2 separate regions of the Homo sapiens genome follow, and region 1 is linked to region 2. A link means that fine-mapping ties the variant in region 2 to the expression of a gene that starts in the linked region. Tissue or cell type: cerebellum. Region 2 holds a variant in brackets; the other region holds the start of a gene. All regions are shown on one strand. Distances are from middle to middle.

The links. PIP is the estimated chance that this variant, and not a neighbour inherited with it, causes the effect.
Region 1: it holds the start of ALDH1L1-AS2, and the variant in region 2 is fine-mapped to the expression of ALDH1L1-AS2 in cerebellum (GTEx, PIP above 0.99).

The regions. Positions count from the first base shown.
Region 1 is chr3:126,172,193-126,188,282 of GRCh38, reverse strand. ALDH1L1-AS2 (ALDH1L1 antisense RNA 2) reads right to left here and starts at 8,218. Exons shown (of 2, transcript NR_046383.1): 1 at 7,739-8,218. It overlaps ALDH1L1 (aldehyde dehydrogenase 1 family member L1), which reads left to right and starts at 7,697. Exons shown (of 23, transcript NM_012190.4): 1 at 7,697-7,807. RefSeq lists enhancers at 3,383-3,677, 6,528-7,281, 7,282-8,037.
Region 2 is chr3:126,201,950-126,218,039 of GRCh38, reverse strand. ALDH1L1-AS2 (ALDH1L1 antisense RNA 2) reads right to left here. Exons shown (of 2, transcript NR_046383.1): 2 at 7,871-9,714. It overlaps LOC124909426 (a long non-coding RNA gene), which reads right to left and starts at 5,008. Exons shown (of 3, transcript XR_007096060.1): 1 at 2,343-5,008. RefSeq lists enhancers at 4,021-4,533, 8,712-9,911. The variant T/A (reference allele first, on the strand shown) is at 6,854.

The DNA of each region.
Region 1 (16,090 bases), 30 kb after region 2:
ATTTTTGATTTGTATTTGGTTGTAGATGCAGAAACTGCCAATATGGAGGGCCAACTGTATTTATTTTAAAAATCCTGCAAACATGGACCCGCACAGGTCCAACCTGCGTTGTCCAAGGATCAAATGTATACTCATGTCACAAATATCTGACTTTCAGTTAGTAACAGGCAGCCGGCTGCTTCAAGTGAGATACAATGCTGAGCTGCAACCAATTAAGTTGTTCTTTTTGCCTCACTTCCACTTTCTGTCCATAAATGCAGCCTGACCGTGTAGCAGCCAGGAGCTCTTTGAACCTGTTCTGGTTCTGAGGGCTGCCCAACTCACAAATCTTTTTTTTTCTTCTCAAATAAACTCTGACAAGTTTAAACTTGCTTAAGGTTTTTTTCTTTTTGACAGAGCCGTTGTCACCCGAACCTCTCGTTCAGACTCCTCACCTCCACCTTCTGTTCTGGGTCTGCTCTTTTAGTCTCCGGTTCAACTGCTCCAGCACGACCCTCTCATTGGTCTTAAAGGGCCCTTGATAGTTTCCCTCAATTCACCAGCATTTTCCTCGTCCAGCTCAGAATCTGCAGTCCAAGACTGCCCTTTGATTTTCACTGAAACCATCTGGGTCAGTCTTGGGTAAACTCAGAGATGGGTTTCCTTTTCCTCCGTGCCTGCTTCTTGAGTAGTCTGATGCTTCTGGGGTCTCAAACGCGCAGTTTCGCCCCACTGTAAACTGAGGTGTGCCTTCAATACGGCCCAGGGTCCTTCCACCGCTCTCCCATTCCCCAATCCCACAAGGACTGCTCGAGCTTCCCTCTCCTGCATCCCACCTCGGGAGATGACCTTACTCCACTCTTTAGAGAGAGAAGGAAAGCCACAAGGGGGGATCTTGTACCAACATGAACCATGGGTAAAGAAACCCCACCGTCCATCTAGCTACCCACCCATCCATCCTCCCACCCTCCCTTCCTTCCTTCTGGTTATGATGCTGTTCAAGCCACCTCGGAATCTGCTTTTGGACATCTTCCCTTCCCCCCGTTTTTAGGAACCACAGACACTACTGATTCTCCCCTTTCTTTCTTGTACATTCAACTTTTCCTTCTCAGCTGAGTCTTTCTCAATAGCTTTTTACACTCTTAAGTCTCTCTCATTACAGCCTTTCCCCGTTCCCACCATGACCTTCTCTTGTTACCTTCCCCTTCCCAGCCAAACACTTCGCAGTGTGTGCTCCAGGAATGGCAGCAGCCTCTCCTCGATCCCCGCTCCCCCTGAGCAGCCCTGGGTGCCTGTTCCTGGATGGTTCCAACTTCAGAGCTCCACAGTGACTTTGCCCTCCCAGCGTCCGTGCAGTTTCAGGTGGTGGCGGCTGGTGCTACTGCTGATCTCCAGCTGCCTCACCACTTCTTTTTGCCCTGCAGCATTTCCAGCACTTTTGCAGCTACTTCACATGGAGCTCCCTCCACTGAGCAACATGAGGTGGGCTCTCCACTGACTGGACAGTGCCACTCATCTGCGGATCCCTCTGGTCCACTCCCCACCCTTCACGGGGCCTGGTGCTTGGAGTCTGACCTGGGAGGGCTGCAGCCCCAGGCCTCTCTACCTCTGACTTGCAGAGACTTAGCCATTGGAGGGTCCTGGAAGGACATGAGGTGAGGGAGGGAGCTGGGTCTTCCCTGCTCCCTGTTATGATCACAGTTGCCGCATCTCCCAAGCAGTCCCTACACGCTGCACTCCTCTGGGTTCCATGAAGTTCTCCACACCCCAAGCCCTCAGGCTCAGGGTCAGGGTCAGGGTCAGGGTCAGGTTCAGGGTCAGGGTCAGGGCCCTGCTGTCCCTGGCCCTGGGCCATGGCACCATCCTGTGCTCCCCAACCAGTGCCACGTTCTGCTCACTTGTCTTGCACATGCCTGCGCTGAATCCTGGGTGGGTGATTTCCTCACACTTAGTGGCCAGCCCAGGCCCAGGGCCATCAGGGACAGAGCTTCCAAGAAGGCCCAGTTGCTCCTTTCAGCTTTCTGATGCTACATGAGCTTTTCCAATGCAATTATGGTGATGGCTGATGGAAACTGATTTTTTAAAGTTATTATTTTTAATTGTGGTAAAATAAACATAACCCAAAATTTACCATTTTAACTATTCTTTAGTGCACAGTGCTATGTTTTTAAGAGCATTCACACTGTCGTGCAACCATCACTGCCATCCATCTCCAGAACTTTTTCAACTGAAACTCTGTCCCCATTAAACATGAACTCCCCATTCTCCCCTCCCCATGGCCCCTGGCACCCCCCATTCCACTTTCTGTCTCTATGAACATGAGTACTTTAGGGACCTCATAGAAACAGAACCATTTGTCCTATTGTGGCTGGGTTAACTCAGTTAGAATAAACTACTCAAGATTCCTCCATGTTGTAATGTGTGTCAGAATTTTCTTCCTTTTTAAGTCTGAATAATACTCCAGAATATTGACTTTTTAAAGATGTTTTTACTTTGCAAAATAAGAAAATGAGAATCTAATATCAGTTACTGGAATGCTGTTGAAATTGCCCTGGCCTATGAAATCAGAACATCTTGTTACCACTGGACAACAGAGTGAAACCCACAGTCTGCACCCCATGTTGTGGCCTCGTGACCCCTGACTTTGCCAGCTTCTCTCCTGCAGCTGCAATGCTTTCTCCTGATTCCTCAAAAACAACCCACATCCCCACCTCCATGCACCAATGCATCATTCTTACATTCTCTCCAACTGGAACGTTTCTTATTTTTTGCTGGTTAAAGTCATCACAGTCTTACTGGGCCTTATCTCCCAGGTGAAGCCTGAAGTACCCAGACCCGCTTTCTTCATGTCTCACCTCTGTGATGGTTCACATCCCCTCCCACCTTTCATATCTGCCACCTGTGCATTCATCTCCCCCATAGAGGTGCGAGCACCTGGAGTAGAGACACCGTCCCTGCCTCCTCTTTGCTCATTTATTCCTTTACAGTGAGTTTCTGGGGGCCATGTGCCAGCCAGGTGCTGGCACCAGCCAGTTTGCATGGGGGTGCAAACACGCAACACCCCCAGGTTAGATTTGGCATGGGGCTGGAGAGGACCTGGCAGGAGCAGGGCTGTAAGCTCTGTGGCCCAGAAGCATTCCATCTATGTCTGCAGGTCATCAGGTGGGCTCTGGTGTGTGGCACAGAGCTCTGTTAAGTCTCATCCCTACCTTCGCCTCTACATGAAAAATTGCATGCAGGCCCTTTAAAGGGGGAAATATGGAGAAAACCATTTTGAATTCTTGGTTCCCACTGGGGAGAGGTTCTAAGGGGTGGGGATCAGGTGACATCATGAGTAACTCACGAGGCAGGGTAGAAGCATCTGAACGAGGCATCCTAGGAGATAAAGAGAAACACTGGCTCCAAAATTAAAACAAAACAAAACAAAACAAAAACAAGCCCAGGTCACTTGGCCTCCCCGCTTTGATTTCCCACAGGCTATGACCTTCAAGTTAATGTTTCCTTTGCAGCGTACACACAGTCCCAGTTACTGATTCCCCAAAAACAAGCTGAATCATCATTATACAACAGAAAGAGAACCCATGTCTATCCCATCCCCCATTCACAGAGCCCTGAGCCAGGCTTGTCTCCTAATCTGCCTCTGGATTGGAGCAGTAGCCCCCATTGTTCTACCCAGACTTGGGCTGTGTAAGTGCACACTGCTTTCCCTGGGAGGACTTAGCCACCAGGGCCCTGCGGAAAGCCCGGGCAGAGGCTCTCTCTGCAGGGCTTATCCAGCCACTGTCACTGCAGGTGCCTCTCCTGGATCAGGGCCTGTGCAGGGCTGTGGGATACACAGATGAAACAGGCCCTGTCCCTGCCCTCAGAGGTGTTGCAGTTGATAAAGAGACAGACACACATATAAATAGTTGCATTAGAGTGTGGTCTGTGCTGTGAGTGAGGGAATTCCCAAGGAGAAGGTTGGGGTCAGGCTTCCCAAAGGAGATGATGCACAAGCCCATCCCTGGGGCACAGGCAGGGCTCAGCTGGTGGCTTCAAGAAGCAGGGCATTCCCGGCACAGTGAACTGAACTGGCAAAAGAGGGTTTCAGTGGGACTCGTTCAGAGAGTATCATATAGTCCTGGGACAGGGACAAGCTGGCTTCTGCCACTGTCTGACCTCAAGCCTCAGCTTCTCTCTCTGGTCTATGAAAGGATGGATTCGGAAATCACACAGTTACTTCCACCATCTTTCATGTGTTAAAAGGAAGTCACTACGTTCAGCCTACATTCAAAGGCAGGGGAATTAAGTGCCACTCCTTGAATGGAAGAGCATCAGAGAGTTTTAAAATGACCACAGTCCACCTACTGGCCACAAACTACTTACATCCTTCCACATGCAAAATACATTCGCCCTCCAAACATCCCCTCAAAGCCTCATCCCACTGTAGAATCAGCTCAATATCCAGAATCTCTGCATCTAAATCAGGCTTTGATGTGGGTGAAGCACCTGGGGTATTATTCCCTCAAGTGTAGCTCCTTGAGTAGAGTTGCTCTCAATCTACAGACTTAGGAATTCCAGAGACAAATTAACTGCGCCTCCCCCCTGCACCCACCTGACATAAACTGGTGGGATAGGCATTGGATAACCACTGTAGACGTGCCTGCTCCAAAGGGAACAAGGACAGGAGGCATGCAGGAGTAACTAGTGTACGGCAATTCTAAAATCTTCCTGGGCGGGTCCTGAAAGTCTCTTGAATAGGACTCAGTCTGACTCTGGCCCCAGAGTGATTCTCCACGCTCTTGGCTCCACCCTTTGGGTTCTTTGTTCTATTCCCCAAGTCATCCCTTCTTTTCCATGAAATGCAGCCCAGGTTCATATCCGTATAGTTTCTCAGCTTGCTTCCTCCCAGAATTTGGGGGAGTCTAGAGGTCTCTTTTCATTTTATATTGTCTCTGACCCTTTCAGTCCAAGTCTACACTGTTTTGCTCATATAATTCTTTTAAAAATGTTGCATGTCTCCTGTAGATCTCACTGAGGTTCATGCCTTTAGACAACTGTCAAACCCACACATCTCTTTGAGAAAAGCCCTTCTCTCTCTTGGGCTTCTGCTGAGACTGCTGTCAAGGACAACTGTAAGCTTCTTAGAAATCCTACTATTTAACAAAATATTCTGAGGTGTCCCTTTGTTCTCTTTGAAGATTTTACAAAAGATCTCATGACCACACTCTTGGCTTCATCTTTAGGCCATCTTCCTTGCACTGGCCTGCATTTGCTCTTTGCCTGGAAGCCATTTGTTAGTTTTAGCATCATATGACATCTGGAGAAGCTGGACATTTTCACAGCCCAAGTTATGGTTCCTTTTTATTTAACAATCCTTCCTTTGGCTTATGTCCCTTCTCTCACATTTTAGTATAAGCAGCAAGAAGAAGCCAGGAGGAGGCACCTTCAACAATCTCCTTAATGAGATCCCCCAGTTCATCTGGTACATTTTCTACTTTCCACATGATTTCGGAACACTTTCTGCTTAAAATTCCCTCCTCTCCTGCTCCATACCTCTAAGAGTATGGATTCCTCTCTGATTTCCTAATACATCTTTTTGGGGTGTCTAACCTCCAAGCCATTGTTCAGTGGTTCCTGTCGCCCATCTGCCTTCTCAATTTTAACTCCCAAGTTCAGAACACACCACTTTCCCATTGCAGGCCCCTAACACTCAGCCAGTTTTCCTACAGATTATATGGCACACCTTCCACACACAGGGCATGCATTCAGCCCTGGGGACTTCCCAGGAGAATAAGCTAGTCTTCGCCATCATTGTCCAGAGACATGTTAATCAAGCAATCCCAGAAGCAGTGATAAAATTGCAGTTGAAGGCAGGGTGCAGTGGCTCATGCCTGTAATCTCAGCACTTTGGGAGGCTGAGGTAGGTGGATCATCTGACGTCAGGAGTTTGAGACCAGCCTGGCCAACATGGTGAAACCCCGGTGAAACGTCTACTAAAAATACAAAAATTAGCTGGGTGTGGTGGCGCATGCCTGTAATCCCAGCTACTCAGGAGGCTAAGGCAGGAGAATCGCTTGAACCTAGGAGGTGGAGGGTCCATTGAGCTGAGATTGCACCATTGGACTCTAGCCTGGGTGACAGAGTGAGACTCTACCTCAAAAAAAAATAAATAAATAAAGTTGAGAGAGGTTCATGAAGAAAAATTACAGGCCTCTCTGTGATCACATAATGGAGGAATCTGTCCTAGTAAGGCTGAGGCTAGGGAAAGCTTCCCTGAAGTCATGGCATTTTAGTAGGAACTTCCTGAAGAATGATGGGGGTTCTCTGGACAAAGATGAACGGCACATGGAAACTTTATGAGTCGAGAAGTTCCACAGATATGAGGGACAGCAGGGAGACCTGCAGGCTGGAGCCTAAAGAACAAGGGGACAGTGCCTGAAAGTAGGCTAAGTGGATCAGCAGGCACAGGCCACCTCAATCCTGGGTGCCCATACTGGCTTATGTGAGCAAAATACATGCATTAAGCCATTCAACAAACATTTATTTAGCAACTGCTACAAGCCATCACTGTGTATTGGGGATACAACAGTGAATACATCTCACAAATTTCCTGTCCTCAAAGAGCTTACAGTCTAGTGGGAGAGACAGACAATGAACAAACAAAGAAACAAGGAAATATCAGATATACAGTTAAGTGCTGTGAAGGAAATAGAACAGGGTGATGTGGCAGGGAGTGGCTGAGGGACTTCCTTAGTTTGTGTGACCTGGAACAGCCTCTCTAAGGCTCTGCATCAGATATCTGATATGTGATACCATATGGGAGCAGGCTCTGAAAGAACACTACAAGTAGAGAGGTAAAGGCAGGGGCTGCAGCAAGCCTGATGTGTTCAGGCACTGAGCAGAGAGAGGGCCAGGTGGTCGGGACTTAGCGAGAGGGTCGCCTCAAAAGAAGTGAGGCTTAGCAGGGCACGGAGCAGTGCGGCCGCAGGTGTGGTGGGAAGGGTGTTCCAGGAGAAGGAGCCACCTGGACACAGGCTTGCAGTCATGAAACAATACGCAATTATCACTCCCGGCATTCTACATGGCCTTGCCTGAGACCGGGCTGGCCAGGATCTCTGGGAACCAGGAGGAGGGGTCTGCGGCACCAGGACTGAGTAGAAGGGAGAGAGTGGAGAAGGGGAATTGCAGAGAGAAAACCAGGGGCTGTTTTTCTCTCGGAGAGGCGGGTAGGCACTGGGCGGGCAGAAGCGCCGCTATCCACCCGGATGCGCAGCTGCTAAGGGGCCGCCTCTGCAAGCGGCTGCAAATTCCCGGAGGGCAGCGTCTCCTTTCGCTCTGCTGTGTCCGTAGCACATGGCAGGTACTTGGCCCATCAAGAGTGAGAGAGGGTGAGCGAGTGAGTGAGTCACCGGCTTGGCGAGGGTCTCCTCTGACCCACTTAGCCTTGCCAGCGCTCAGAACTGCCAGCCCTGCTGGGTGCTTGGGACTTTTCAAAGCCCTGGGAATTCTCCAAGGGTCCACAGTAAGTCTTCTTGACCTAAGCGGGAAAGAGCGCAGGCCCCTGCGGGGTTGGCTTTTACATGGCATTTATAGACCCGCCCGGAGAGGGTGCGCTGCGCTCCCGCCATAGTCCCACCACCGGTGAGCGCCGCCCCCACTCGGCTGACTCTCCGCCCGCCCCGCGCCCCTCCCCTCACGGGCTCTGGCCTTAACCAGAGCTCGCGGACTGGCGGGGACAGGTCCCACCTCCTGGCTCCCAGGACGGGTCTGCACCAACCTCAGTTTCGGGGCTGCGGCTCACAGAAGTCTAACCTGCCCGGGACGCCCGCACCAACTCCTGCGCGCGGTGAGTTTCTGGGCTCTCGAGAGCGCTGGACTCCCGGCGGAAAGGAGGCTGCCCCGGCTGCAGCTCCGGGGGCTCCGGGGGCTCCAGGGGCTCCAGGACTCGGTTCTCACCGCAAGGGCTCCTGCGGGGCCCATCAACTTCGCCGCTGGGACGCCGGGCTCGGGGTACGGGTCCGGAGTTCTTTGGAGCAATTGAGGCTGAACCTGGCCAGGGGTCATCAGGCTAAATGACCGCAGCGCCAGGACTGGCCCGCCGAGGATCTGGCCGGCCGCGGTGGTAGGGCCCTTACGGAGCTGGCGCCAACCTGTGGGGTGGGCACTGCTGGCCCGGCTTATGGAAGAGAAAACTGAGGCTCGATAAGAGAAAGGGACCAGCGAAGGCGACGCGATGATTTGTGACTGGGGACTACCTGTTTCCTGGGCCCCTCGACCCCATTCTGTGACAGGGAAAGGTCTTCCCTGATTGGCCAAATCTGGGGGCCTGGCACGAGGGCCTCTTGTGATTGGAGGGGTCGACGTGAGCGCTCAGGGGCTGCGCTGGAGTCCCAGCTCCAGCCACTGCGCTCAAGTGGACGGTCGCGCGTGCAGAGGGAGGCCGGATAGCAGACCCCACAACGTGGCTCCTGGGGCCCCGCTATCGAGAGCTCAGGCCCCGCGGGCACTTGCCTAGGAGAGGAAAGAATCTTCCCAAAGTGCAGACAGAGACGGAATTTAATCAGGAGTCCCAGACTTGGAGTTTGGAGGCATGGGCTCTGGTGTCAGGTGACTTTGTTTCCTCCCCACGCCTCCACTTCTCCTTGACCTTGGGCAAGTTTCTTGTGTTCTGAATCTTAGTTTCTTGTCTCTAAAATCGGGAGGGGCAATGAACAGTAGTGCCTGCCTCCCAAGATTGCTTGAGAATTACATGAGACTGCCCCGCGCCTGGCCCTAGGAAACCCTCGGAGAATGTTGGCTGCTGTTTGTTTGTTTGTTTGTTTGAGACAGAGTCTCGCTCTGTCGCCCAGGCTGGAGTGCAGTGGCACGATCTCGGCTCACTGCAACCTCCGCCTCCCGGGTTCAAGTGATTCTCCCGCCTCAGCCTCCCGAGTGCTAGAACTGCATTCATGGGCCCCAGGGCCCTAGCACCAGAACAGAGGGCCCAGAGCTGCAGTCCTGCAGGGTGGCCCAGCCTCACAGGGACTAGAAGCTGGGTCCTGGAGAGCCAAGCCTGGGCTGGGAATTGGGTAGGAGGGTTGGGAGGCCCAGGAAGCCTCCCAGTGTCCCCACACCACCAAGTGAAAGGACACTGAGCGGCCATGACTGGGGGAGGAGGTGGAGGCCTGGAGGCGGCCCATACGGCCCACAAGGGGCTCTATGGGCTTCACTGCAGGCCCCTGCTCTTTCTGGGGCCAAAGGGCAAGCCTGATTGAGGCCCCTCCCAAGGCTCCCGTGCCTGCCATTCTGGCTTTCCCTGGACTGTGACAACAGCCCCTTGGTGGCCACCTGGACTCTGCCTCCCTGCAGGGGGGGAACGACATACTCTTTTATTTTTTTTTTTCAGAAGTAATCATGTACAATATAAAAAAAGAACATTCAGTTAAGAAAACAAAATAATTACAGTCGTCAAAAACCTCTGAAACCCAAAACCCTTTACCCAGTAACTTTCAACATTTCAGTGTAAATTCTTCTAGGCTTTTACCCTGCAGATAAACACACGCATGCACACACAGACACACACACACACACACACAAACTTAAGCCTTACACAATTATCGTGGTTTGTTACTTGTTGGGTGTTTTGACAGTGTCAGGTTTGTATAACTCAATATTTACCAATATTTTCTAATAATTTAATGTTTTCTTCTTATATTTGATTTTCAAGTATTTATTTTTAACCCAATTGGACTGTATTTTAGAGTAAGATGTGAACTATAGAGCTAGATTCATTTATTTATTTCAATTAGTAGACATTTTTAGAGCAGTTTTAGGTTTACAGAAGAATTGAGGACGGAGTGCAGAGTTCCCATATTCTCAGTCTGTCCCTTCCTGCGCGCTTTCTCCTATTTTTCTTTCTATTCTTTTCCTTTCTTTTTTTTTTTTTCTTTTTTTTTTTTTTTGAGACAGGGTCTCACTTTGTTGCCCAGGCTGGAGTGCAGTGGCACAAACACAGCTTACTGCAGCTTTGAACTCCTGGGCTCAAGTGATTCTCATGCCTCAGCCTCCCAAGTAGCTGGGACTACAGGCATGCACAACCACGCCTGGCTAATTTAAAAATTTTTTTGTAGAGATGGGTCTCACTTTGTTGCCCAAGCTGGCCTTGAACTCAAGGGCTCAAGTGATCCTCTGCCTTGGCCTCCCAAAGTGCTGGGATTACAGGCATGAACCACTAGGCCTGGCCTCCCCTATTTTTAACATCATGCATTGATAGGATATTTTTGTTACAGCTTTTTTCTTTTTGAAACAGTCTTGCTCTGTTGCCTAGGCTGGAGTGCAGTGGCACAATCTCAGCTCACTACAGTTTCTGCCTCCCAGGTTCAAGCAATTCTTGGGCCTCAGCCTCTCGAGTAGCTGGGATTACAGGTGCACCACCATGCCCAGCTAATTATTGTATTTTTATAATAGTAGAGACAGGGTTTTACCATGTTAGCCAGGCTGCTTTTGAACTCCTGGCCTCAAGTGATCAGCCCGCCTTGGCCTCCCAAAGTGCTGGGATTACAGGTGTGAGCCACCAGGCCTGGCCAATTTTGTTATACTTGGTGAGCCAATATCGATGCAATGTTATTAATGAAAGTCCATAATTTACATTAGAATTCCCTCTTGGTGTTGTACCTTCTATGGTTTTGGACAAACATATAATGATGAGTATCCAGTGTTACAGTATCATAGAGAATAGTTTCACTGCCCTAAAACTCTCCTGTGCTCTACCCATCCACCCCCCAACCCCCCTACCTATCCCTGGCAACCACTGGTTACTGCCTTTGTAGTTTTGCCTTTTCCAGAATGTCATATAGTATGTATGAATCATATGGTATATAGCCTTTCCAGACTGGCTTCTTTCGCTTAGCAAAATGCATTTAAGCATCCTCCATGTCTTTCTGTGACTTGGTAACCCATTTCTTTTTATCATTGACTAATATTCTGTTGTATGGATGTGGAGGTACCACAGTTTATTTCTCCATTCACATACTACAGGATATCTTGGTTGCTTCCAAGTTTTAGCAGTGAATAAAGCTGCTATCAACATTTGTGTGCAGGTTTTTGTGTGGACATTAGTTTTCTTCTCCTTTGAGTAAATATCAAGAGCGATTGATGGATCACATGGTAAAAGTATGTTTCGTGTTATAAAAAACTACCAAACCTTTTTCCATAGTGGTGGCATAATTTTTCATTTCTACCAGTAATAAATAAGAGTTCCTGTTGCTCCACAGCCTCATCAGCATTTGTTGTCAGTGCTCTTAATTTAACTCTTCTAATACGCATATAGTAGTATCTCATTGTTATATTTTAATTTGCAATCTGTAATGACTTACAGTGTTGAGCATCTTTTTAAATGCTTCTCTGCCATCTGTATATCTTCTTTTGTGAATGTCGGTTAATTTACTTGGCCCATTTTAAAATTGGGTTGTTTGTTTTACTGTTGAGTTTTAATAGTTCTTTGTATATTTTGGATAACAGTGCTTTACCAGATATGTCTTCTCTCCCCAACCATGGCTTGTCTTTTCATTCTCTTAACAGTGTCTTTTGCAGAGCAGAAGTTTTAAATTTTAATAAGGTCTAATGTACCATTTTTTTTCCTCCATGAATTGTGCTGTTGTTGTTGTATCTAAAAAGTCAAATCCAAGTTTTGGCAGTTACAAATAAAGATGCTGTAAACATCAGTGTACAGATATTTGTGTGATTTTTGTGCAATGCAGATTTTCTCCATTGTCTTGCCTTTGTCTCTTTGTCAAAGTTCAGTTGACTGTATTGATGTGAGTTTACTTCTGGGCTCTCTATTCTGTTCAATTGATCTATCTGACTATTCTTTTGCCAATACCGTACTGTCTTGATTACTGTAGCTTTATAGTAAAGTCTTGGGGACAGGCAGTATCGGTCCTCTAACTTCGTTCTCCTTCAATATTGTGTTGACTATCCCAGGTCTTTTGTCTCTCCAAATAAACTTGAGAATCAGTTTGTTGATATCCACAAATAACTGCTGGGGTTTTGATTGGGATTGCATTGAATCTATAGATAAAGTCGGAAAGAACTGACATCTGGACAGTATAGAGTTTCCCTACCCATGAACATGTACTATCTCTTCATTTATTTATACATATTTTTATGTTTTCATCAGTTATGGTTATTCTCACATAGATTTTGACCTATTTTAGGTTTATGTATAAATAATTCACTTTTTGGTGCTAATGTAAATGGTTTTGTGTTTTTAATCTCAAATTTCAATTGTTTATTGCTAGTATATAAGAAAGTAATCAATTTTTGTATATTAACCATGACTTTACATCCAGCAACTTTGGCAGAATAACTTATTATTTCCAGTTTTCTGTTGCTTTGTTGGCATTTTCCACATAGCCAATTATGTTTTTTGAGAACAAGAACAGTTTATTTCTTCCTTCCCAATCTGTAGACTTTTCATTTTCTTTTCTTTTCTAATTACATTAGCCAGCACTTCCAGTATAATGTTGACTAGGAAGGGTGAAAGGGAACATCCTTGCCTTATTTCTGATCTTAGGGGAAAAGCTTCTAGTTTCTCTCCATTAAGTATGATGTTAGCTGTAGGTTTTTCATAGATCTTCTTTATCAAGTTAAGTTCCCATTTATTACTAGCTTGCTGAAAGCTCTTATCATAAATGAATGTTAGATTCTTGTCAAATGCATTTTCTGGATCTATTGATGTGATCATATAATTCTTCCTTAGCCTATTCATGCGATGGATTACATTAATTGATTTTCAAATGTTTAACCTAGAATAAATCCCATGTGGTGGTTATGTATAATTCTTTTTAAACATTGTTGGATTCAATTGCTGATTTTTTTGAGGATTTTAACATCTATGTTTATGAGAAATATTGATCTGTTAGTTTCCTTTCTTGTAATGTTTCTGGTTTTGGTACCAGGGTAATTCTGACCCAAGAAAATTAGAGAATTTCCTCTACTTCTATTTTTTGAAAGAGATCATAGAGAATTGGCATAATTTCTTTCTTAAATGTTTAGTCATATTCATTAACCCTAGTGCTTTCTATTTTGGAAGGCTACTGGCTCCAGTTCTTTAATCAGTATAGGCCTATTCAGATTATCTATTTCTCTTTGTGTGAGTTTTGGAACGTTGTACTTTCAAGGGATTGTTTCATTTCATTTAACTTACCAAATTTGTTGATATAGAGTTGTTCATACTAGTATTTTATTATCCTTTTAATGACCGTAGGATCAGTATTGATGGCCCTTCTTTCATTTTTGATATTAGTAATTTGAGTCTTCTCTCTTTTTCTTCTTAGTTAACCTGGCTAGAGGTGTCTCAGTTTTATTCATCTTTTCAAGGAACCAGCTTTAGGTTTTGTTGATTTTCTCTATTGACAGCATGTTTTCAATTTCACAAGTTCTGCTGTAATTTTTATTATTTCCTTTCTTCTGTTTATTTTGGATTTAATTTGCTCTTCTTTTTCTAGTTTCCTAATTTGGAAACTTGCTTTTAGCTCTTTCTTCTTTAATAATATATGCATTCAGTGCTCTAAATTTCCCTCTAAACACTACTTTAGCAGCATCCCATAAATTTTGATGTTATATTTTCATTTTAATTTAGTTTGAAATATTTTAAATTTTTTCTTGAGAGTTATTCTTTGATTTGTTTACATGTTGTTTAGAAGTGTGTCATTTAGTTTCCATTTTTTTAATGTTTTTCAGATATCTTTCTGTTATTGATTTCTAGTGATTCTGTTGTGATCTCAGTAATCTCCATCATAGAAGTCATTGATATTTGTTGTTGTATGTTTTATGGCACAGAATGTGGTCTGTCTTGATGAATATTCCATGTGAACTTGAGAAGAATGTGTATTCTGTTGTTGTTGGGTGAAGTATTCTCTAAATGCCAATTAGATACACTTAATTGATGGTGCTGTTCAACTATGTCCTTACTGATTTCCAGCCTGCTGGATCTATCAGTTAGTGGGTACTGGCCAGGCACGGTGGCTTACGCCTGTAATACCAGCACTTTGGGAGGCCGAGGTGGGCAGATCACCTGAGGTCAGGAGTGCGAGACCAGCCTGACCAACATGGAGGCTCTACTAAAAATACAAAATTAGCCGGACGTGGTGGTGCATGCCTGTAATCCTAGCTACTCGGGCGGCTGAGGCAGGGGAATTGCTTGAACCCGGGAGGCGGAGGTTGCAGTGAGCCGAGATCGTGCCACTGCACTCCAGCCTGGGCAACAAGAGTGAAACTCCGCCCCCCCAAAAAAAACGTTAGTGGGGACTGACAGAGAGGTGTTGATGTCTCCAACTGTAATAATAGTGGATTCATCTATTTCTCCTTAAAATTCTGTCAGTTTTTGCTTTACACATTTTAGCACTGTTGTTAGGCACATACATATTAAGGAGTATTATGTCTGCTGGGATAATTGACTCCTTTACCATTATGTAGTGCTTCTCTTTATTCCTAATAATTTTCCTTTCTCTGAAGTCTGCTTTATCTGAAGTTAATAGAACTACTCCATATTTCTTTTGATTAGTGGTAGCACGGTATATCTTTCTCCATCCCTTTATTTGTAACCTATCTGGTTTTTATGTTGAAATGGGTTTGTTGTAGACAACATATAGTTAGGTCACGATTCTTTATTCACTCTAGATAGTCACATGTTTTAATTGGTATATTTACACCATTGATATTTGAAGTGATTTTTTGATATAGTTGGATTAATATTTACCATATTTATTACTGTTTTCTATTTGCCCTTTGTTTCTTTTTTCTTCCACACTTTTTTCTGCCTTTTCTGATCTTAACTGAGCATTTTATATGATTCCATTTTCTTTTCTCTCTTAGCATATCAGTTTTACTTTTTTGTTGTTGCTTTTTTAGTGGTTGACCTACAGTTTGCAATATACACTTAAATCTAATTTAAGTCTGCTTTTGAATAACACTATACAACTTTATGGGTAGTGTAAGGGCCTTATTGCAGAGTATTCTTGATTCCTCCCTCCCATGCCTTATTATTACTGCTATCATTCATTTCACTTATCCATAAGCTACAATCACTGAATACATTGTTGCAATTATTATTTTGAACAAATTGTTATCTCTCAGATTAAGAATAAGAAAAAAAATTATTTCACATTTATTTCTAATACTCTTTTGTATGTTGAGTTTCTGACTTGTTTAATTTTCCTTTTTTTCTGAATTACTTCTTTTAACATATCTTGTAAGGCAGTTTACTGGTGACAAATTCCTTCAATTTTTGTTTGAGAAGTCTTTCTCCTCCACTTTTGAAGGACAATTTTACTGCATACAGATGGAATCTAGTTAGTTCTAAGTTGATGGAATGTTTTCAGTTCTTTAAATAATTCTTTCTATTCTATTCCTGATTGCATGGTTTATGAAGAGACGTTTGATGTAATCCTCATCTCTCTCCCTCTATAGGTAAGGTGTCCTGCCCTGCCTCTCCCTGGCTTCACTGAAGATTATCTCTGTGTCTTTTATTTTTTGCAGTTTGAATATGATATGCCTAAGTATAGATTTTTTGGGGGGTGGGGGGTGATCTTTATCCTATTTGGTTTCCTCTGAGCTGCTTGGATCTTGGTTTGGTATCTGTCTTTAATTTTGGAAAATTATCAGTCATTATCACTTCAAACATTTTTACTATTCCTTTCTTTCTTTTTATTCCATCTGATATCCCTATTACAAGGATTTACACCTATGGCAATTGTCCCACCATTCTTGGATATTCTGTTTTGTCTTTTTTATTCTATATTTCCCTTTGCATTTCAGTTTGGGAAGTGTTTGTTGATATTTCATCCATCTCATTGATTATTTCCTCAACTGTATCCAGTCTATTGATAAACCTATTAAAGACATTCTTTGCATTTATCACAGGGTTTTTATTTCTAGACTTTTTTTGATTTTTTTCTTAATTTCCATCTCTCTGCTTACATGACCAATTTGTTCTTATATGTTCTCCACATTTTTCCATTAGAGCTCTTAGCATTTTAATTATCATTGTTTTAAATTTTCCATCTGAAAATTCCAACATTGCTTCCATATCTGATTGTGGTTTAGGTGCTTGTTTCATCTTTGCAAACTGTGTTTTTGTCTTTTATAT
Region 2 (16,090 bases):
GAATTTTTTTTGAAAAAAGAATATGTGTGCCTTACCTGGATGCTTATACTTCATTTAATCTTGAAATAAAAATAATTGCGCATAGTAGTGTGTAAATATAAGTGCTCTGAATTTTAATTCAGGTATTTTTATAGCTCAGGAAAGTTTTCTGTTATAACTGTATTATTGTGTATACTGCGTGTGTTTTCTTCAGAACATTAATTACCCATATGTTAGATCTGCCATTTTCTTCCTCCATATCTACTATCTTTTTTCTCATGTTTTAAAATTCTTTGTCCCTATTTAATTGTTTACTTATTTTGCTTCTGGAAAAGTTTCTTAAATGACCAATGTTTAAGTTTTCCATTTATTTTTGTTTTGCTGTATAGATTTTTTTTTTTTTACTGATACATTGCATATTTTATTTCTGGTATTGCACTTTTAATTTCCTCGCCATTTTGCCTATAACTTCTTTATTTTCTTTCTTTATTTTCTTTCTTAGTTCTTTTCTTAGAAAATTAGCCAGCTATTTTTCAGGCTCATTGGAATCTGGTTCTATACCACGTTGCCTTCCCTTCTTATTTCTTGCTTTAAAGAGCCTACGTATGGTTGAGATTTATGGTTACCACAAAGCAGTTGCTCTCTAAAATTTCCCCCCTTCTTGGTAAATAAAGCAATGTTGAAAAACATACCTCCCTGCCTTTTTAATACCATGAACACTTACATCTTATAAACTGTAAAATATTTTTATAGGTCCCCTTTTTACTGGTGTTTACAACCTTGAACAAGGCAAGATCTATTCAGGCTAGACATTTGCCCGAAGCAGGCTATAGACACTCTCTTGATTCCTAGCATTGTCTCTCTGGTTGCTGTTAGTATTTATGCTGGCTGATGTAAAATATCATGCCCAATGAAATTATTAAATAAAACTGTGGGACCAGGAAGGGAAAATTAACACTTTGTGGTTGCATCATTTTTCACTATCTTGTTGGTGTCAGGATGAGGAATCTGGGAAGCAGGGTCTGTCCGTTGTCTGTTCAGCCTTCAGGTTGGAAAGAATAACACCATAACCTGTGTCTCCCTTTGTCATGATGAGCCAAAAGGATCTATAAAAAAACACCTCACCTCTATGTGCTAGCACCTCCAGGAAGTTTGTGGTGTCCAATAAGCAAGGGTCTAGGGAAGCAGTCTCTGCTTGGCTCCTGCTGCTGAGTGGTGAAAATTGGAGTACATTTAAGGCTACCTTGCTACTTGGCTTTATTCCGACAACTGAGCTCCCATCTCTCTCCAGATAATCCCAACCCCAAGGGCTTACATCTAATCTTTGGAGCTATTTCTGTTCTTCATTTTTATTTCCTTATCAGTCTCCTTTTAATGTTATGCCTGCATTGCTCACTCTTTCATGCCTACAGAAGTGATTCACAGTACAAGAATCTGAAGATCTTTCAAATTATTCAGTGATGGATCACCTAAAATTTTAAAGTATTTGCCTGTTTGCTGAAGATTCCTTCCAGCAATTTAAAACTTTGCTCATTCCCAATGGCTTCTTGGTCACTTCAGCCTACAAAATCTGACATTTGTAATAGATGCCATCAGGTGGTGTGGTTTGTGAGATGGCTCTGCCTTACCCCAGAAGGATGCAGCTTCAGGGGCTCTACCACTATGCTCACTTTTCTAGAAAATGAAAAGAAACACCTCTATTTGGAAACCTTGAGACCATTTTTGAGGTTTGGGGATAAAAGTGATTTGCCAGTGTGTCGTAGGTGGCCAGCAATGGGACCGGGGTTAGAACCCAAGCAGTCTTCCTGGCCCCAAGCTCTCATTTCCCCACTGCACTGTCCCCAGTCGTGCACTTCAACATGGGGCTGGGTTCAAAATTATTGCACCATCTTGCCACCTCTTGTTTTCTGGTAATCCCAAATGCTAGGGGATTCCAGTGCCAAGAGCCAAGAGTTCAAAGTAGTAAAGGAAGCATCCCAAGAAAAGGACTTTGTAGTCCCGACTGTACCAGCGTAGGTCACCCAGCACTGGCAGTGGGCAAACACCTACACGGAATGTTGTCACTGAGAAAAACGGCACGCAGAGCTAGCTGAAACTGAGAGTGCAGGAGGCCAGTGCTTCCCCTCTGCTGTAATGTCGATCCAGGGGCCACCACAATGGGTTCCACCGAATGTAGACATAGGACACTTGGGCGGTCTGATACTAAGTGTGCTGCTACCTGGCCAAGGCCAAGAACAAGCGCAGGGCACCAAAAGGACAATTATTCCTCTGTCGAGCTCCTACACATCCATTTTAGTCAGGATAGGGCATGTTATGCTGTGGTAATTAACCACTCTGAAACAGCATTGGCTTAATACACTTACGGTGTATACTCCCTCATCCAGAGTCCACTGCAGGTCCAGGCGACTCTCCATGCAAGGATTCAGCTGTCAGCTCTTGATCTTGGGACTTCAGAGGGACTGCCACAGTGGAAAGGTAGGACTGGAGGACCTGGCTCTGGCAACTAAAAGCTTCAGCCTGGAATTGACATCCGTCATTTCCCCTCACATTCCATTGGCCAGAACTGGTCCCATAGTCTCAGCTGCCAAGCGGGGAGGTACTGGCTGTTGTCAGTACTAGAAGTTTCTACCACAGCTCTGAAACCTGACCATTTTGAGAAGAAAGGTGAAGGGTAAAGTTTGGCATACTTTTCTTTTCTTTTTCCTGAAAGATAATGTAAGTACACAAGTCTTAAGTGCACAGGTTGATGAATTTTCACAGAGTATGCACTCCAAGCAGGACGCAGCTAAAGATATGCAGCACTCACAGCTCCCCACGCAGTATCCCGGTGCCCAAGCAACTACCTCCAAAATTCTCTCCTGACCTCTAACACTGTAGATCAGTCTTGCCTGGATTTTGTATTTTATATAATGGAATCCTTAGTTATGCACTCTATTGTAGCTTTGCATTCAATACTTTGAGATTTATCCATGTTGCTGCAAGTATTAGCAGTTTGTTATTTTTTTGTTGCTGTGCAGTATACCATTGCATTCTTAAAATACTACCATTTAATTAATCTTTCTAAAGACATTAAAGACATTTGTTGGGGGATTAAAATAAATAAGTAAATTTGCTGTAGGCGATCTTGACCATGATCAGGAACCTAGCACTCGGTTCCCTTGGATATACACGCTGGTTCCTATGGCAGGCGTTTGCTTACCTCCATTAGATGTTTCCACGTGGTTGCTCCAATCCACTCTCCCATCAGCAGGGTATGAGAGCCCAGCTGGTTGTTCCACAGTCTCATCAGCACTTGGCGTTGCTATTTTAGCCATCCAGTGGCTGTGATATGGAATCGAATGTCACTATTTGCAGTTCCCTGATGCTAAGTACCCTTTCGTGTGTGGATTGACTGTCTGGATCTCTCCTTTTGTGAAATATCTTTTCAAGTCTTTTGTCAATTTTTAACTGAGCTATCTATATTTTTCTTGTTGTAGGGGTCTTCATATTTTCTGGTCCTGAGTCGTTTACTGAACAAAAGGCAACTTTTTTGTGAGTCATCTTTTTACTCTTAATGGTGTCTTTTGAAGTTCATTTTAATAAAGTTCAATGTTTTCCTATTTCTTTTCCGTTTAGTATTTGACAGTATTTTGATATTGTTATCAAAATATACACAGCCAGTCCCCTCGTGCGTTATCCTCTGCTCCAGGGGGCTCTCAAGGGGATGAGATGCAGAGAAGGGGAGAAAACTGGAACCCCAAGTTCCCTGATTAATAAATAGGGACCAGCGCGAATCCTTACCACAGCAGGGGGCGAGGCATTGGAAGCCTGGGAAGGGAGACTAGACTCCCCTGCCCAGAGGCCCGGGCAGTAAGCAGGGAATGGAAGCAGAGGCGTGGGTCATGGGTGCTGCCCCACTGAAGCCCATGGTCCTGCCCCCTACAGTCAAGGGCTGACCAAGTCTCACCCTCAAGTCAAGCAAGTAGGCCACTCCCATTGCAGGGGGATCCAGGAAGGTCCCTGAAGAGTCCTCTGCTGTCCTTCCCTTCTGGTGACCACACCTGCGTCCACAAGAGGAGTGGCTGCCCCTGAGAGGGGACAGCAGCGCCCAGTGTCCCTCCTCGCCTCCGCGCGGCTGCTGTCCCTGTCCTTCCCTTCTGTGCCTGGCTGGAATCACGAACATGGAAGGCCCGTCTGCCTTTTCCGCTTCAGACTGCAACAGGGCTTTGCTCCAAAGTGCTGGGAAACGGCAGTTCCACTACTAGACAGGTCTGCACCCCAGAGAAATGTGTGTGCGCGTGCACCAAAAACACACGAGAACGCTCACAGCAACCTTATCCCTTCTAGCCCCAGACGAGTGCCCATCAACAGCAGAAGGGGTAGATAAAGCGGGGCTCACCCTCGCAGTGACCTGAACACGGCAGCGAGAGCACACTGCGTGGATGACACACAGCGCCGCGTGGAAGACGCTAAGCTCCGGGAGCCCGCGGTGTGATCCCCTCGCCCCAAAGCGGCGCAAGGGCCCCAGGCGCCAGGCCCTGCGGGGCCCGGGCAGCGCGCGACGCGCTGTCTCTCCACCTGGGGACGGCTGTCCGGCGAAGCCAGTAAAGCTCAGTAAGCTGTAGCTCAGGGGGCACGTCAGGACGCGCACTCCACGCCAAAAAGTTAAAAGAGGTCTGCGCCAGGGAGGCGCGCGGGCGGGAGACCTCGACTCTCAAAGCGCCTCCTCCAGGCTCTCCGCCGCGTCCTCTGGGGCTGGGGCGGAATCCTCGCATCCCCGCCGGGTCTCCCTCCAGGCCGCCGGGCTCCGAGCGGAAGGGCCGCTTCCATGGAGACGGCTTTTTTGAGCTCGGACAAAGCACTCTGGCTGCGGCGAAGGGCCGCGGCCGCCGGGCGGCGCCTTCCGAGGGCGCAGGGCGGACGCGGAGGCCCGAGAAGGCGCGGGGAGGGTGGGGAGGGTGGGGAGGCGAGAGGCCGGGCCTCCGCGTTCCCGTTCGCTGCGGGACAAAGCTCCCTGTCCTGTCCCTTCCTGGGGGCGCCCCTGCCGTGAGAAGCAGAGCCGGCGGTGGGGCCCAGCCCCTCCCAAGGGCGACTCCCCCACCCTCCACAGGCCGGGGCCTGAAGCCGTCACAGCGGGGTTCGCTGCTTCCCATTCAGGCTGTGATGGCCCGAGGCTCGGCGTGGTCTCGCTCTCTTCTCAATTAATCCATTTTAGGGGGACAGGCAATACATTTACATGGTTCAAACACAAAAATGATGGAAAAGTTAGCTTTGAAATACTTGCTTTCCCCCAGCCCTATCGACCCTGTTCTTCGGTGCCCCCTAAAGGCACCTTCTGCTCTTTATCTATCACAGGCTTATGCCAAATGCCAGCAAAAGAATGCAGCAGGGCCACTCCGCTTCTTTGTCACAGCAACCGGAGCCTAGGCTGCCCTTGTTGTGTACCCCTCCCCGCCTCCCTCCTTCCTTCCCTTCCTCCCGCCTTCTTGCTTTCCCTCCCTCCTCTCCTCCTTCCCTCCTTCCTTCCTTCTTCCTTCTCTCCCTCTTTCTTTCCTCCCTTCCTCATTCCTTCCTCCCTTCCTTCCCTCTTTCCTTCCTTCCTTCCTCCCTTCCTTCGTTCCTTCCTTCCCTCTCTCCTCCTCCCTCCCTCCTTCTTTCCTCCCTTCCTCCTTCCTTCTTTACTTCCTTCTTCCTTCCCTCCTTCCATCTTCCCTTCCTCCTTCCCTTCCACCCTTCCTCCTTCCTTCCCTCCTTCCATCTTCCCTTCCTCCTTCCCTTCCTCCCTCCCTTCCTCCCTTCCTTTCTTCTTCCTTCCTCCCTCCTTCTTCTCTCCTTCCTTCTTTCTTCCTTCCCTTCTCCCTCCTTTCCTTCCCTCCTTTCCTTCCTTCCTTCCTTCCGTCCTTCCTTCCTTCTTCACTCCCTCCCTTCCTCCCTTCCCCCTCTCCTTCCTTCCTCAGTCCCAGAGCCCTTTCCATAGGCCTGCACAGAGCTTTTTCATTCTTTCTGACATCCGCCTCAAGTGCTCCAAGGTGTACCCATGATCTTTTCAACGGACACCCTGTGGATAGGAACTTGGGCTGTGTGCTTGCCATTTTGTGCTCATACAGGTGTATCTATAGGGTCAATCTCCCCTGTTTTTGACATCCTGACCTACCGCCCGCTGACCCTCCAGCCCCACCATGGCAGTGTATCCAGTGTCAACTACCTGGAGACTTGCCAGGGCTATAAGTCTTGTGGCCCTGACTTCCTGGCTCAGCAGCCGTGAGTCTCTGCCTGCAGGGGACTCCTGCTGAGAGAGGACTTGACTGACCAGATCTGCCTCCTGGGCAGGCCCCTTAGATGGGACCTTGTGTGAGCCTTTGGTTTCCAAGGACCAAACCATGGAAGGCTCAGAGTGACTAAGAGGTTCAAAGACTCTTAGGCAGTGAGGCCCACAGGAGGTAGGAGCCCCCAGCGGTGTGATGTGGGAGCCGGGTCAGATGCAGAGGCGGAGGACGGGTGTGGATAGGGGCAGGCTGGAGGGGCTTAGCAGGGGGACCCCACACACTGGGCTGCCAGCCTGCAGCCTCCAGGGCCAAGTGTGAGGCCTGTGGGTGTGGGGGTCCTGTGTGTAAGGCCTTTGACTTCACCTGTGTGAGAAATGAATATCTCAGCCAGTGGGTGAGCTCTGTGTCCCACCCAAGCATGAAGCCCACTTTCTAATCTTCATGTGAACTTCATGATCCATGATGGAAGCTGATCATGATGGAAGCTGCCTGTGACACCTTATTCCTATCAGTATCCAATCAGTATCTGTCAAGCACTGTGGGAGGCTGTGCAGTTATTCCCAAGTTGTTCCCTGGAGACGGAGCTTCCCGGCCCTCGTGACTCAGTCTCTGCCACGGGCAATGAGCAG[T/A]GTGGCAGATGTGGCAGCTCCAGGCGCCATCGGTGGCTGCACTGTCGCTCTTTCTCCCTTGGCAGCAGCCTGGCACGTCTGGTAGGGGCTGCTGCATCAGCCTTGATTCTGGAATGAAGCTGACATGGATCAAGACCCAGCCATGCTGAGAGAGGCATAAATATGCGAGAGAAATAAACCTTTGTTATTTGAAGTCCCTAGGACGTGGGGTCGTTTGTTCTTTGGTATGACAGCTTAAGCTGGCCCATACAAGCTCTTACTCCGGCCAGGCATAGGACATAGAGCAGGGAATGGGACAGACGTGGTCTCTGCCCCTGTGGAAACATGAGGACCTGGGGAATGGCCACTCCCCCTGGCAGAGAAGCCTGGAGAAAGCAGGATTAGGGCAAAGGTCTGGAGTTCTGTCTTCAGTGTGCTAAGCTGAGGCGTCAACAAGATAGCCAAAGAGAATTGCCAAGTGTATGGTCAGGTGCACACATCTGCAGCTCAGGAGAGAGGCTTGGTGTGTAAATCTGGGCATCAATGGAACATGGATTGCCAGCGAGGAGCTAGGCACTGTGGGAAAGGAGGTAGCTCACACCCCTCAACCCCCACCACACCACGGTTTGGCCATTGGTTTGTTCCTGAAAAACATGAACCTTTTGGAAATCCACAAAAGTCTCCTAAGGGAAGAAGAAATGGGTGGGAGGAGACTTGCCATCGCATGTAGAATGTGGATTCAGGCTGCTTGTTTTTTAAATTATGAAATAGAAACCCCTGATAATTGAAGGACTTGGGGATATTAGAGTTGGAGGTATTTGAGTTCATATCCCAACCCCCTTAAAGTAGTGTTTCCAAAATTGGGTGTGCATATCACTGGTAGTACACAAGTTGATTTTAGGGGACATATGAAATCTGTTATTTTATAGTTGTGCTATTTTGTTTAGTTACCCTTTGTTTACGGCATGTGATACTGGTTTTCCATCTTCAGTGATGATATGTGCAAGTTACAGAAAGATATTTAAACAAAGGCAATAATTTGATTTAAAGGAAACTTTTAATAATCGCACATATATTGTATAAATATGCCATGAAAACTAAGTGACTCAAGTTTGAGAAACACTTCTTTAAAGGTAAATTCTGATGCCTGCATGCAACAGATGACAAGGGGGGTACGGTGTAGTTTAGTGGCCTGGCCAAGGGCCCTGGCTACTCCATGGTGCTACTGGGATACACAGCCAAACCCGGGAAGATGGTCCATGTCCTCCGAGGCCAGCTGGAAGGGCTTGTCCAGTGAGGCAGCTACAGGGCTGGGCCTGGAGCCCAGGGCTTCCCAGTGGATGCTACTGCTCAGCCCTCCTGGCCCACATCTCTTAACTCACTTGGAGGGGGTCCCTCCTGGAGGCAGGATGCCCCTTCACACCCTTATCCTCCCTTCTCATTTTCCAACGTGGCCAGCAAGTGCTTTGATCTCTCTTGGAAATGTCTCTGGCCTCCTGACTTTAGGAATGAAAAATGTCCACACCGTGGCCTGGTGGGGGTGGGGTATGAGTGTTAAAAATCAGTCTTCCAAGTGGAAAAATATTTGATGGGAATTTTGACAAACAGTTGGGGAAGGATTAGGATAAGAATGAAGTGATTTATGGAAATGAAACTATGGCCGAAAAATTCAAATTTTTTTTGTCAGCATTCCAAATGACAAAATTATTTCATCACTAGACCTCGCCAAGGCTTTCTGAAAGTTGAATACCCATTGGTCTTCCAGGGTCCAGCTCATGCCCTGCACCAAGAGTAGGGATGGGCGAGGAGGGTGTGACCCAGCAGAGAAAGTTTCAGTTTGTGAGCAAACACCTGTCATGTCCAGGAGGCCTGGAGACCTTGTGGCTCTTGTCACATGATGAAGGGGTTGAAGAAATTCATCTACACACTGTGGAACCCGGACTCAGCCCTGGACCACAACTTTCCCTCTGTCATTCATTGGCTGTGACACTGAGAGATCAATTTCCCCTCTGAGCCTCAGTTTTTCCATTTGCAGAATTGGGGAAGGAACCCCCTCCCTCTTGGGTTTGTTGTGCGAAGGCAATGAGGTGTTTCCCATGTGCAGCTGTGAACACCATGAGAACACATGCCACTCCCCATCTTCCCAAGAGCCTTGACGCCTTCTGCATGGGCATGTCTTCCACCGCAAGCAATAGAAACTGTGTCTGGTTGACTGGAGCAAGAATTGGAGAGGATGTGGGTAGCTCTCAGAATCAAAGAAAAAGTGCAAAATCAACCCATAAGAGCCAGCGTGCAGACAGTCCCCTCTTAGGAACTGAGGGACACTCCTCAGGGAGCCATGGCAGCAGCACAGCAGGTCAGCTGTTTCCGTCTTGGCATGGCTCCACTATGACTCAGCGTCCTGGGGGAACCAGAGTCTGATTGGCTTGGCCCGTGTCCCAGCTCCTCGCCCAGGAAATGCCTCAATTGATTGTTACACCAGGACTGCATGCAACATAGACTTGTGCCCTAGAGCCAAATCAGTGAGTGCCATCAGAAGGACCGGGCATGGGGAATGAAAATAAACCACCACCGCCAACAAAAAAACGGGGGAACCAACCATAAATTCCTTCCGCTGAATGTTGGAGCCCATCTTTTCATTTGCATGATCCACCCTCTCCATTCTGTGTCTTCCAGTTGCAGCTACTCTTCAAGGATCACTAAGGACCATTCCACCTACTGAACAGTGATCACAGCATCAGTGTGTTAACTTCTGCTGTGAGCACCAATCTTCACATTCTCCAAAGTGCTGTGTGATTGCAGTTCCTATCATATCCACTCTTGTTGGCTTTTCACACGTACTGATGAGCTGTCAAGGCAGGAGATCCCCCATTTCCAGGGCCCTACAGAGGTTCAGATGAGAGAAGAGACAGGAAGTGAGTGACCTAAGCTCATAAGGCTTGTACGTGATGGAGCTAGGGCTTTACTTACTAATTTTAGGAATTTTTCTGTTTATTCTCTTGAGACTTCTGCAGATCAAAATCATTGTATCTGAAAATAGTAATGTTTTATGTCTTCTCTCTTAATAATTATGTATTCTATTTTGTTTTTATTTTATTGCACTACTAAAAAATTTTACAATAAAAAAGTGACAGCTGATACCTCTATTTATTTCCTGGACTTGATGAGCGTGTTTCTCAGGTTCTGCTGTAAAGCACAATGTGTAAAGTATGTAAAATGGTAATACTTGGCATACAGTAAGTGCTACATAGGTGTTAATATTTGCATCACTCTGTAGTTCTGAACTCATCTGCCTAACAAGCACAGCCTGCCCCCACTATCCCTCCTGTGCCCCAGACATGGGTATAGCTGAAGAGGGCCTTGGTTTGGTTTGATTCCATCATGTATGCACTCAGTGGAGACTCAGTAAGTGTTTATTAACTTAAAATGCATGCCCGAATGAACGAATCAGTCCATTGAGTTCTAGCGGCCCTTACCTGGGACACGCTGGCCTCATGGCCAAGGAAAAGAGCTTGCGGAACCAGGTGATGATTTTTAAAGCTTGGTATGGATAGTCTCCAAAGACAGTCACCATCAATTTCTTTCCTCCCTGTATGTGCTGGATGATTCTTACACCAAGTACTGGAATCTTGCCTTTGTCTTACTAACAAAGTCTGGACTAACCTTAGTGACTTGCTTAACCAATGGATTGTGATGGAAGTAACATTCTAGGACTTCTGAGGCTGGGCTTGTAAGATGCCTGGATCTCTTGATAATGTTCCCTCCTGGAATTTAGCTGTCAGGCTGTGAGAATCCCAAGCCATGTGGAGATGCCATATGTGAGTGCTCCAGTGAAGAGCCCCCACTGAGGCTCCAGGTGACAGTCAGAATCCACTGCTCACTGTGCGACTCGGCCATTTTGGACATCCGGCCCAGCTGAGCCTTCAGGTGGTGTGCAGCCGCAGCCAGAAACTGACTACCACACATAAGAAACCTAAGAAAGAACTACCGCACCCAGTCCACAGGGCCATTACATCATAATGAACCATTATTTTAAGCCACTCTGTGTTGGGATGGTGTTTTTGTTTTGTTTTGTTTTTTTGTTTTATTTTGTTTTTTGTGAGACAGAGTCTTGCTTACAGGCTGGAGTGCAGTGGCGCGATCTTGGCTCACTGCAAGCTCCACTTCCTGGGTTCACGCCTTCTCCTGCCTCAGCCTCCCGAGTAGCTGGGACTACAGGCGCCTGCCACCATGCCTGGCTAATTTTTTTTTGCATTTTTAGTAGAGACGGGGTTTCACCGTGTTAGCCAGGATGGTCTCGATCTACTGACCTCGTGATCTGCCCACCTCGGCCTCCCAAAGTGCTGGGATTACAGTGGGATGGTTTTAAAAGCAGTAACAGATACCCAGAGAGCTTCTGCTTAGAAGGCACACATCACTTCCCTGCTCAGAATCCAGCACTGAACTCCCAATTTATTGGTCAAGAAGTGATGTCCACAGGGCAGAAAAATATGGGCATTCCTCAAAGACGTAGCAAGTATTTAGGGATAATAGTAAGAGAATAAAGTGGCTGGATATAAAATAAACACAGTGATAAGTTGCATTTATATATACTTGCAACAACCCTTTACAAAATAAAGTGAACAAAGATCTCTTTTACAATCACAATAAAAATAAAATATCTAGAAACAACATTAGTGCCTTGGATACATCTAGTTCCTAGTACAATCCCCCAGGGAGGCTGTGAGAAGTTTTGTAATGAGCTTGTTAACAGAGATTGTATATTGGGAAATTTCCAGCAAATTTGCAAATTGGCATACTACTTCTGCCAAATGACTAAAAATGTTCTGTTGAACTGCTAAAACTTTCCTGTGTATGTGCTGAGGTTGTGATAAAATGGCAAAGTAGGATGGCTGGTCTGATTGGACTCCAATTGAAACATTCTCTCAAGTATGTGCTAAAGCAAAAAGCATGAAGTCAGCTGCAAGTGAACAAGTTGTCAGGCTTGTGCCTCAGCTTCCATGAAAGGAGCTGGCAGAGGCAGCCCTGCTGACCTCTGAGCTTTGCACGACCTGGGTGTCCAGCATAGATCTGGGTATGACCTCCAGGAGGAGGCAGGCAGCCTTCAGGGCTGCAAGCTTCTGTTAGAAGCTTAGCAAGCGTCTCTGACCATCACTTCCTCTGGAAATGTATTCTTTAATAAACCATTGCATTCATGAGTGAAATTGAATAAACATCCCAGGATTCTCAATCTTTGGGAAAAAGCTCATTCTAAAGTCACAAATTGTCTCACTAGAGAAAAATGCCACTGTATGCAGTACACACAAATGATTACATACTGCTTCTAATGGTTACTGACTCTGTGACCCTTGTCCCCAAGCCCCAAGTTGAGAAAAGCTTGTATTTTAGAGGTTTGAATGACAAGGGGAGGGAAAGGATAGGGAGATGAGACAATCCCTCCCCAAGATGAACCCTTCCCGCAGGTGTGTCCATCTCCTAGGTGCAGCCACCTCCCAGGTGTACCTTTCTCCCAGGTATACCCTTTCCCCAGGTATACCCACTCCCCAGGTGTACCTTTCCCCTAGGTACACCCTTTCCCTAGGTGTACCTTTTCTAGGTGCACCTTTTCCACAGGTACTCCCTTCCCCCAGGTGCACCCACATCCCAGGAACACCCTTTCTCCAAGTGTACCCACTCCCTAGGTACACCCTCTCCCCAGGTGCACCCACTCCTCAGGTATACCCTTCCACCAGGTGCACCCTCTCCCCAGGTGTACCCTTCCCCCAAGTGCACCATTTCCCCAAGTATACCCACTCCTTAGGTGCACCCTTCCCCCAGGTGCACCCTCTTCCTAGAGGCACCCACTCCCCAGGTGCACCCCCTCCCCAGGTGTACTCTTCCCCCAGCTGTGCCCTCTCCACAGATGTACCGTCTCCCCAAGTGCACCTACTCCCCAGGTGAACCTTCTCCCAGGTGTACCAACTTGCCATGTGTACCCTTCCCCCAGGTGCTCCCTCTCCCCAGTTGCACCCTTTCCTGAGGTACACTCACTCCCCAGGTACACCATTCCCCCAGTTGTACTTTTCATCCAGGTGTGCCCTTCCCACCAGATGCTCCTCCCCCTGGTGTGCCCTTCCCCTGGGTGTACTTGACTCACTTTCCTTCAGTAGGTTTCCGCTCAGTTATCACTCTATCATGAAGCTTCCCTCACCACTCTGTTTAAAATGCAACCTCCCTCAACTCTCCCTCTCCTCTCCCCTACTTTATTTTTCTCCATTTCATATAGCTGATAATTCCCATCTTTATTATGCTTATTGTCTGTTCCCAGTCAGGTAAGTCCTATGTGGTGTTTTTTTGAAATTTTGTTCTTTGCTATATCTCAGTGTCTGGGACAGTGTCCAACATATCCTAGGTGCTCAGTACACATTTATCAAGAGAATGAATGGATTGGACACATCCATCTCCCTTCCCTGACTCTGAACTTCTGGAGCACAGGGACCCTGCCTTTTTCATCCAGGCCAATACATAGCAAGTGCTTGTTTAAATGTTGGTTGAACTCAGTGGCCCACCCATTACAACATAAAGACACCAATACTTTCAGGAAGCTTCAGCGAAAAACCCTTATAGAAAAAACTCTCCCAGGTGTATGCCCTCTGCACCAATTGCAAAGCTCTCGACCTCATTAAAAAGCATTTCATTAGAAGGTGACTGATATGGTTTGGATTTGTGTCCCCGCCCAAATCTCACCTCAAATTGTAATCCCCAATGTTGGAGGAAAGGCCTGGTGCGGGGTGATTGGATCGTGTGGCCAGATCCCCACTGTTGCTCTTGGTATAGTGAGTTCTCATATCTGGTTGTTTAAAAGTGTGTGTCACCTCCCGCCTCTCTCTCCTCTTCTTCCTTCTCTGGCCATGTAAGATGTGCCTGCTTTCCCTTTGCCTTCCACCATGATTGAAAGTTTCCTGAGGCCCTCCCAGCTATGCTTCCTGTGGAACCATGAGCCAATTAAAACTTCTTTTCTTATAAGTTACCCAGTCTCAGGTAGTTCTTTATACAATGCGAGAACAGACTAATACAGTGACCTCATTGGGATTTATGCAATCTTATCAGAAATGAAATTTCACAAGTCCACAGTATCAGTGCCATGGGGAACCTAAGAATCCCGGAAGTCAAGGGCAGCTCTTTGCCTGTCCTGAGCCCTCAGCACAGGGAATCAGTGCTGTAATTGAACTCACTGGAGTAACCCTATAAATGGAGAGATGGCCGCGTGTGAGTCTAAGCAGAACTGGACTTGGCAGGGAGGACCCAGGCAGCCCAGGGACACGGTGCCCATGTTCCCGTTTCCTGTAGAACTTTGCAAGCATGATACCCATCTCTAGCATGAGCCATCAGGGCCCCAGCATGGACCTGAAATCAGAGCCTGCAACCCCCGTGTCTCCCTCCTTCTCTTTCTCAGCCTACATCCCTGCTTCCTTAGCCATCAGGCCCTGCTAGGGAGGCTGTCCCAGCCCTACCTGGCCTGACCTTTGGGGCCTGAGAGGGTAAGTCCAGCCTAGGTGTGTGTGTGGGGGGGTGGGGTAGACAACAGCCAACTGCCTTAGGAGCAGGTTCCCTACACACAGACCCCTGCTCCCTGAATGTGGCAGAGGGATATCCAAGGACGTGTATGTGTTTGCCTGTTCATTAGCTCACTAAGCCCTGCCTTCTGCAGACACCCTGGTGGTGCTAGGTGTACAAGGATGAGACAATGGACCTCCCCTTCTGCACCTGAAGTGGGCCTGCTGCACACATCCAACAAGAGTGGAAATACCAAACACATTAATAAGTGCTTCCAAATAATACGCTTGCACAGCTATTGCCCAATGAGTAATTTCTGATATGCTCTGCGGAGTGTTTGTCAGGACAGATGAAGATTTATTCCTTGTGCCAGCCCCCTTCTCTGCATTTTCCCTTTCTCCCCAACCCTCCAATCTCCCAGTACGGATGTAGTAAAATATTGATAAATTTTACAATCTATTATACATTAGTAGTCTATTAAGACTATGTACCACACTGCAAACGCAATAGTAGTATATGGTGGGGTTTTTTCCTAGTCCAACTTTTTGTTTCGCTTAGAGTTAGTGATGACCTCATTTTAAAATTTGCTTCATTTTGGTGCACTGATCTTTATTTATTTTTTCAAAATGCTGCATTAGACCTGTCAAGTACATGGCCATATCCTTTATAAGGTGCCTCATCTTGCAGACTCTGTCAACCCCACTGTGCCCCAGCACCTCTGCCTTGCTGCACAGGACCTCTGGCTGCCCAGCCTGCAGGCATCCTGAGACTGACTGTAGCCCGTGTCCTGTACCAGTACCCGCCCCCACGGCTCCTGCATCCAGATCTTGCTGTTCCTTTGTTTGTTCTGTTTTTTTTTTCTTTTTTTTTTTTTTCTGGATTGCGTGCTCCAGTGGCTTCTAAAAAAGAGTTTTGAGGAAGGGGGCATATTTTCAGTCCTTCTTTGAGTTAACAAGTGCTCCTGTTTCATTGTCTCATGTTTCATTGGGAATAAAATATTTAAAAGTGGGTTCCTGTCTTCCTTTCAAGTGCAGCACCACCTTTTTCCAAGATGCTGTTGTTATTTGCATCCTAGTTTCCTTGTCCAAGAGCTGTGTGGATGTGGTTGTCAGCATCTCTCCTTTCCCTTTCTCATGAATGTCTGCTTCGCAACTCATCCTTAGTGGGCATGAGGCCAGTCTTTGCCATCTGGGTGTCCTGGCCCTTCAAGTCTGAAATGGAACTGGCTGAACTTCCCACCTGCTGTGGTGGAGTCTGGGGCCGTAGCTAAGAAGGCACAACACTGTGATTGTCTGAGAATGTCTGCAATTGTCTGTGATTGAACGCTGTGATTGTCTGAGAGTGTCTCAGTTCAGTGGTCAGTCTATTCCCTACATGTCTAATAAATGAAAAAAGTTTCATACAGTAACTGGAAGTCAACTAGAATATATGCGACTTCACTTATTGTTCAATGTTGGGTTGATTCATGGGTGGATTTTCTAAACCTTTCATCTTTTATGGGTTGATTTTCTAAACCTTTTATCTTTTATGTTATTTTCCATTTATTCATCATTTTAATCTAATTTTTGGAAGGTGTTTCTAACTTTATATTTCAAACCTATTGAATGTCATTATTTCACTTATCTAATTATCTTCTTAGAATCTTTCTTGTTTTCAAATTATTTTTTTATTGAGACCAAAGAAGCTACATAAAATGTTACAAGCCTAAATTTGAACTGAAAG